Linked DNA regions of Homo sapiens. The protein of the gene in region 1 purifies or fractionates together with the protein of each later gene. This does not show direct contact. Each region holds a gene or a part of one and is shown in the gene's direction. Other genes may lie near its edges.

The links.
Region 2: the proteins of TVP23A (region 1) and YIPF1 purify together in Homo sapiens (affinity purification with mass spectrometry; one large-scale study listed by BioGRID and IntAct). This does not show direct contact.

The regions. Positions count from the first base shown.
Region 1 is NC_000016.10:10,808,487-10,812,305, reverse strand, and holds part of TVP23A (Golgi apparatus membrane protein TVP23 homolog A), read left to right. Parts: intron 1-3,699; exon of another isoform or gene 3,700-3,769; intron 3,770-3,819.
Region 2 is NC_000001.11:53,882,979-53,886,797, reverse strand, and holds part of YIPF1 (protein YIPF1), read left to right. Parts: intron 1-3,521; coding exon 3,522-3,685; intron 3,686-3,819.

The DNA.
Region 1 (3,819 bases):
CAACACTGTACAAGGGTCCCAGTTTCTCCGCATCCTTGCCAACATTGTTATTGACTGTGTTTTTGATAGTAACCACCTCATGGGTGTGATAACCATGGTATTTCGTTGTGGTGTAGATTGGCATATCCCTAATGGTTAATGATGCTGCTGAGCATTTTTTCATGTGCTATGTGTCCACTTGTATATCACCTTTGGAGAAATGTCTATTCAAGTCTCTTGCCCGTTTTTTTTAATCAGTTATCGGATTTTTGTTGTTGAGGTCTTTATTCTGTATATTAATATTTTCTCTTATTCTATAGGCTGCCTTTTCATTCTGTTGGTTGTGTCTTCTGATGCACAAAAGTTTTTAGGTTTAATGTAATTCCGTTTGCCTTTTTGTACTTTTTTTTTTTTTTTTTTTTTGAGACGGAGTCTTGCTCTGTCCCCCAGGCTGGAGTGCAGTGGCGTGATCTTGGCTCACTGCAAGCTCCACTTCCCGGGTTCACGCCATTCTCCTGCCTCAGCCTGCCGAGTAGATGGGACTACAGGTGCCAGCCACCATGCCCGGCTAACTTTTTGTATTTTTAGTAGAGACGGGGTTTCACCATGTTAGCCAGGATGGTCTCGATCTCCTGACCTCGTGATCCGCCCGCCTCGGCCTCCTAAAGTGGCCGATTTGTACCTTTTGTTTCCTTTGCTTTTAGTGTCAGTGTATGTGTGTGTGTGTGTGTGTTTAATTTAATATAATATAATTCATGGCCAGGCACTGTGGCTCATGCCTGTAGTTCCAGCACTTTGGGAGGCTGAGTCAGGTGGATTGCTTGAGGCCAGGAGTTTGAGACCAGCCTGAGCAACATGGCAAAACCCCGTTATCTACAGAAAATACAAAAAGTAGCCAGACGTGGTGGCACACACCTGTAGTCCCAGGTACTTGGGAGGCTGAGGTAGGAAGATTGCTTGAGCCTGGGAGGTCAAGGCTGCAGTAAGCCATTATCACACCACTGCACTCTAGCCTGGGTGACAGAGCAAGATCCTGTCTCAAAAAACAAAATAAATAAAAAGAAATATAATTCACATTCCACCAATTTCTTCTTTAAAAGTGTATGATTCAGTTTTGATTTTGATACATTCACAAGGTTGTACATCCATTACTACTATGTAGTTCCAGAAGTTTTTCACTGCGCCAAATGGGAGCCCTGTACCCATCAGACAGTCCCTACCCATCTTCCCTTTCCCCAAGCCCCTGGGAACCACTAGTCTACTTTCTGTTCCTATGAATTTGCCTGTTCCGGACATTTCATGTAAATGAAATCTGGGTTAGTCATGGATCTCCAAAGAAACAAAACCAATAGGATATCTGTAAGTATGGAGAAAGAGATTTATTATGAGGAATTCATTCATGCAATTTTGGAGACTGAGAAGTCCCACGATCTGCCATCCACAAGCAGCAGGCCCAGGAACGCCGGTGGCATAAAACCCATCCTAGCCCGAAGGCCTGGGAACCAGGGGAGCCTACAGTGTCTCATTCTGAATCTGAAAGCCCCAGAACAGAGGGGCCGACGTGTAAGGCCTAGTCTGACTCCAAAGGCCCCAAAACCAGGAGGTATGATGTCTGAGAGGAGATGAGGACGGCTATCCTAGCTCAAGCAGGGAGAGGAAATTCCCTCTTCCTTTCTTTGTTGTCGTATTCAGGCCCTCAAAGGTTTGGATAATGCCCATCCAGATTGGGAAGGGAGGGCCTTCTTTTTTCTTTTCTTTTCTTTTCTTTTTTTTTTTTTTTGAGACAGGGTCTTGCTCTGTCACCCAGGCTGGAATACCATGGTGTGATCTCAACTCACTGCAGCCTCCACCTCCCGGGCTCAATTGATCCTCCTGCCTCAGCCTCCTGAGTAGCTGGGACTACAGGCATGCACCACCACGCCTGCCTAATTTTTCTATTTTTTGTAGAGACGGGATCACTATGTTGCCCAGGCTGGTCTTGAGCTCCAGAGCTCAAGTGATCCTCCCACCTTGGCCTCTCAAAGTGCTGGGATTACAGCCATGAGCCACTGCATGAGGGTGGATCTTCTTTTCTCCGTCCACCAATTCAAATGCTAATTTTTTTTTTTTCCTAGAAACACCTTCACAGACCCAGATGTGATCTGGGTATCCCTTAGCCCAGTCTAGGTGACACATGTTTTGTACAATATGTGGCTTTTTGTCTGGCTTCTTTCACTTAGCATATTTTCCAGGTTCATCCCGGTTTAGGTGTTTACCATTATTTCATTCCTTTTGATGGTCAAATAATCACCCATTGTGTGGACATACCACATTCTGTTTATCCATTCATACATTGATGGGCATTTGAGTTGTTTCTGCTTTTGTGTTGTTATGAGTAATGTTGCTATGAATGTTTATGTACGTGCTTTTTTTGGGGCATACATTTTTGGTTCTTTTGGGCACATACCTAGGAGTGGAATTGCTGGGCCACATGGTAACTCTGTTTTAGCCGTGCTGTGTTGCAGACCAGCTGTGAGTGAGTGTTGTGGGTTTCCAGCTGCCTTGGGATGCAGGAGGAGCCTGGGCTTTAGGTCAGACAGACCTGGATCTTGATTCTACCACTCCCTAGCCAAGTGACTGCACCCCCACAGTACAGTTCTGGGCCCAAGCTGGCAGGTGCAAATAGGCTTTGATATAAAACTATGTTTCCTCAGCTCTATAGGAAGACAGAGGTAGGGCATCTTCAGCTCATTGGGAGATCTAGCCCCTGCACCCACATAGCTCCTTTTGCTCTACTACTGCAAGAATTGTGTCTGGCTGCCACAGGCGAGAGCCAAAGCACTATGGGTTACCTTGAATCACAGAAGCTGTAGCCTCCGTTTCCCACCAACCTTTTCTATGACTCTGTTTACCCAGACCCAAGGCCTGCTGGCCAACTCAGTCCCTCCAGTGCAGGGGCAGTGGGTGGCAGATACAACAGTCCTCGTGGAGCCTCTGTGCTACGGGAGGCCAGGGTCATTCCCAGGCAGGCCCCCATCAGCCCAGGCCCGATGTTAACCCTTGACTCACAGTGACCTTGAACTTGAACAGTGACCATGACACCTTCTGGGTACCCACTTTTCTTTTCTGTAAAATGGGGTTGATGTTGGCTGTATTATAAGGTTGTAAAAAGATGATTAAATGAGGTGCACAATGTGTTTAGGGGACCTGGCAGGGCTCCTGATGCCCCTTGTGGGCTTCAGAAGTGGCACCTGTTATTCTGATCACGAGTGTGACTTCCGCATCCTGGGCTGTGCAGAGGCATGTTCTCAGCTCACCCCATCACACTGGAGTTCTCCTGGAGTTGGAAACTGTCTTCCTGTGGAAAGTTATGTTATGCTTTCAAGGCACTGTTTTCACAGAATTCCTCCGAACCCAAAGGTCATGGGCTTCCATGAATTTCCACCCAAAGTAGGAAAGTCTCTTCCTGCCACAGACAGATTTCTTAGATCTAATTTTGGTCTCAGCTGTCAGAGCTGGTTTTGTTTGTGGGGTTTGACCAGTGTTTCTTTTTCTTTTGGGGAGTTGTGGGGGGATAAGATCTTGTTCTGTTGCCCAGGCTGGAGTGCAGTGGTGTAATCATGGCTCACTGCAGCCTCAACCCCCTGAGCTCAAGCAATCCTCCCTTCTCAGCCTCCTCAGTAGCTGGGAATACAAGCATGCACTACTACACCCTGCTAATTTTATTTTTATTTTTTGTAGAGACCGGGTCTCAAAACTCCTAGCCTCAGTGATCCTCCTGCCTTGGCCTCCCAAAGTGCTGGGATTAAAGGTATGAGCCACTGCACCCAGCCTGCTTATTATTTCTTGGTTGGTCCTTGT
Region 2 (3,819 bases), on another chromosome or scaffold:
AGTGCAAGAAAGTTTAAAGACAGTGGCCCTCGCAAAAGCCCCTGTGGAGTGAGGAAGTTTAATTTTTTTCCTAAAGGATTGGGAGAACACTTGTGTTCCAGATCACGGATGGTGGGGAAAGCTGACACAAGGTGAGGCTTAGGAGGAGGCAGGTGACAAATCACCCAGGGCTTTATCAACTGTGTTAAGGACTTGGGTCTTTAGAAAAGCACACAGGATGCTGGGGGTGGGGTGGCGGGGGGTGGGTCATGAAAGGCTTCTCCGGGGAGGAACGGTAGTATTGGATGAAAAAGTAGAGGTCAGAAGCCTTCAGGTGAAAGGCATTGTTTCAGGAAAGGAGCAGAGGCTGAAACTAGCTTAGGATATGCCAGGATGTAAAAGCAGAGAATGTTGGTGGCAGAAATAAGACACATACCAGTTTTATGCTCAAGGAGCTGAGATGGACAAGAATAACCAGCACAGAGCAGACTGTGTGAAGAGTCGTCATGTTAGGGGTACACGCAGCCCACACTCCAGTCAAACTATGCCGTCACTGTCCCTCCATCACGGGCACACTTTCCATCTTCTGGGTCTTGCTCATCCCCTTCCCTTTGCATGAGATGCCATCCCCAGCACCTCTGGCCATCCTTCTCATATGGTATCTTCTCCAAGAAACCTTTCCTGATCCCAATAACTAGAGGAGTTATCGCCCTCCTTGGGGCCTTTTTGACCTTTGTGCTTCTAAAGTGGTACTGTCTGTTCCTCCTTCTGGCATTCCTTCCCCCTGGTAAACTACTGCTTTTTAAAAATTTTTTAATTTTCATGGGTATGTAGTAGGTATATATACTTACAGGGTACACTCATATATTTTGATACAGGCATGTAATGTGTAGTAATTGCATCAGGGTAAACAGGGTGTCCATCACTTCAAGCATTTATCCTTTGTATTACAAACAATCCAATTATACTCTTTTTCTCTCTTTTTTTTTTTTTTTTTTTGAGACCGAGTCTCGCTCTGTCACCCAGGCTGGAGTGCAGTGACATGATCTCAGATCATTGCATCCTTCACCTCCCATTTCAAGCGATTCTTGTGCCTCACCCTCCTGAGTAGCTGGGATTACACGTGTCCACCAACATGCCTAGCTAATTTTTATGTTTTTAGTAGAGATGGGTTTTTACCATGTTGGCCAGCCTGGTCTCGAACTCCTGACCTCAAGTGATCTGCTCGCCTCAGCCTCCCAAAGTGCTGGGATTACAGGCGTGAGCCACTGCATCCAGCCCAGTTATACTTTACTTTTCTTTCTTTTTTTGTGAGACAGAGTCTCACTCTGTTGCCAGGCTGGAGTGCAGTGGTGCGATCTCGGCTCACTGCAACCTCTGCCTCCTGGGTTCAAGCGATTCTCCTGCCTCAGCGTCCCAAGTAGCTGGGACCACCAGTTTGTGTGTGCCACCACGCCCAGCTTCAGTTATACTTTTCTAGTTATTTTAACTACTGCTTTTTAACTGTGAGAGTTAAGTATATCTTCCTTGGTCTAATTCCCTCCAGCAAAGTTGTGACTATCTTTTTAAATGTCATTGCCCTGTACAATCAATAAGAGGTACCTGTAATGATAGTTATTATTTCATCATCCTCAAAATCTCTTTGTGGGGTAGGTATTATCTATGTTTTATAATTGAAGAAACAGAGACTCAGAGCCATGGAGTAATTTGCTCAAGGTCATGGAGCTACTGAGTATTAAGAGTCTTACCTTGAACAAAGGACCATCTCACTCCAGAACCTCATGTTGCTTAAACTACCCAAACATTGCCAATTGAGGCTTCAGTAATTGTTGCATATTAGCTACCTGATTAATTTCAGTCACTTTAGTGTTCTCCATAAAACTGCTCATATAGTTGAGAGGCAATAAGAGTGAACTCAGCTGTCCTACTGCTAGGACTGGTGCCCTGCTTGTAGTGTTATAATGGTGCCCTGCTGGCACTCTTCCTTTGGCCTTCGAAGGTTCAGAGCTGCCCTGAATTTTATTCAAGAGCAGCTGAAATAAAGTATGTTAGGATATTCGGAGACAGGAAGTCTCAATCACTGCTGGTGGACACAAGTAGGTAAGGTTCTTTTGGAAAGCAGTTTGGTAACATGGTTCAGGATCCTTGAAAATGGTTTGCACCCTGTTGACCTAGTGATCACACTGATAGGTGTTCATCTTAAGGCTGCCCCCCAAAAAGCTTTTTCTACACAGACACTCCTTTTGTATTTGTAAGAAAACCTTCATTGATGGAATATTATGCAGTCACATAAGTGATCATTTTAAGAGACTGTTATATGAAAAATCATTTTTGTGTATAATCCCCAATTTTACATAATCTTGACAAAGCAGGATGCAAAATTAATTATAGTATCATGTTCTAGATCAGTACTTGGCACATTGTGGGCATGCAGTAAATATTTGTTGAATAAATGAATGATCATCAGTGGCATGAATCTCACTATGTGAAGAAAAGGAAATATACTAAAATGTTAATAGTGTTTGCCTTTATGTGGTAGAACTAAGAGTGTTTTTTTGTTTTTTGGGTTTTTTTTTTTTTTTTTGAGACAAAGTCTTACTCTCTTGCCCAGGCTGGAGTACAGTGGTATGATCACGGCTCACTGCAGCCTCTACCTCTGAGGCTCGAGCAGTCCTCTTGCCTTGGCCTCCCAAAGTGCTGGAATTATAGACATGAGCCACCATGCCTGGCCTAAGAGTGGTTTTTATCCTGTGATTTCTACTTTCTTTTTTCCTTTTTTTTTGAGACATAGTCTCACTCTGTCACACAGGCTGGAGTGCAGTGGTGTGATCTCGGCTCACTGCAACCTTTGCCTCCTGGGTTCAAGTGATTCTCCTGTCTCAGCCTCCAGCATAACTGGGATTACAAGGCATGTGCCACTACACCCGGCTAATTTTTGTATTTTTAGTAGAGACAGCATTTCACCATGTTGGCCAGGCTGGTCGAACTCCTGACCTCAGGTGATCCGCCTGCCTTGGCCTCCCAAAGTGCTGGGATTACAGGCGTGAGTCACTGTGCGCAGCTGATCCCACTTTCATTTTTGTTCCCATATTTTCTGTAGTGATTATGTAGACTTACTGGAAAAAATAACCTTCATTAAAATTTTTTGGACTTGAATCAAAGAAGTAAAGTTTAGGACTTAGATTATATTCCTTGTTCTCCCAAAATTATTTAAAATAAATGTTATTCTCCCCATGATACAGATGAAAACACTGAGGTTTAGAGGGGTTTAGTTACTTACTCAGGCTTGTGTATTTAGTAAGTGGCTAGCTGAGCCAGAACCAAAATCTAGGTCTGACTCCAAATTCTGTTGTCTTCATAGTCATTTTTCTATATCAGATTGATCTCCTGATGAGATTTTTTGTTTTTCAAAGCTTTTGCCCTTTGTATCAGGTAGGGTCTATAGCAAAGCTGAGGTTGTGACAGCTTGTCTTTAAATTCAAAGTATAGCATTTCTAGTGTGGGTAAGGTTTCTGAGGCCCGTGTGCTCTAATTGATTTCAGAATTTGGCAATGCAGCCACTTCTCTGACAGCAAACCCAGATGCCACCACAGTAAACATTGAGGATCCTGGTGAAACCCCAAAACATCAGCCAGGATCCCCAAGAGGCTCAGGAAGAGAAGAAGATGATGAGTTACTGGGAAATGATGACTCTGACAAAACTGAGGTTTGAACTTGTCTTTGAGATATTTTTTAAACAATTTTTAAAGCTTGTTTATGTGCTTATTCACTGTCTACTGTGTGCCAGGTACAGTGTCAGGCAATGACAGCTCAGAGGTAAATGACACATGGCCTCTTCCT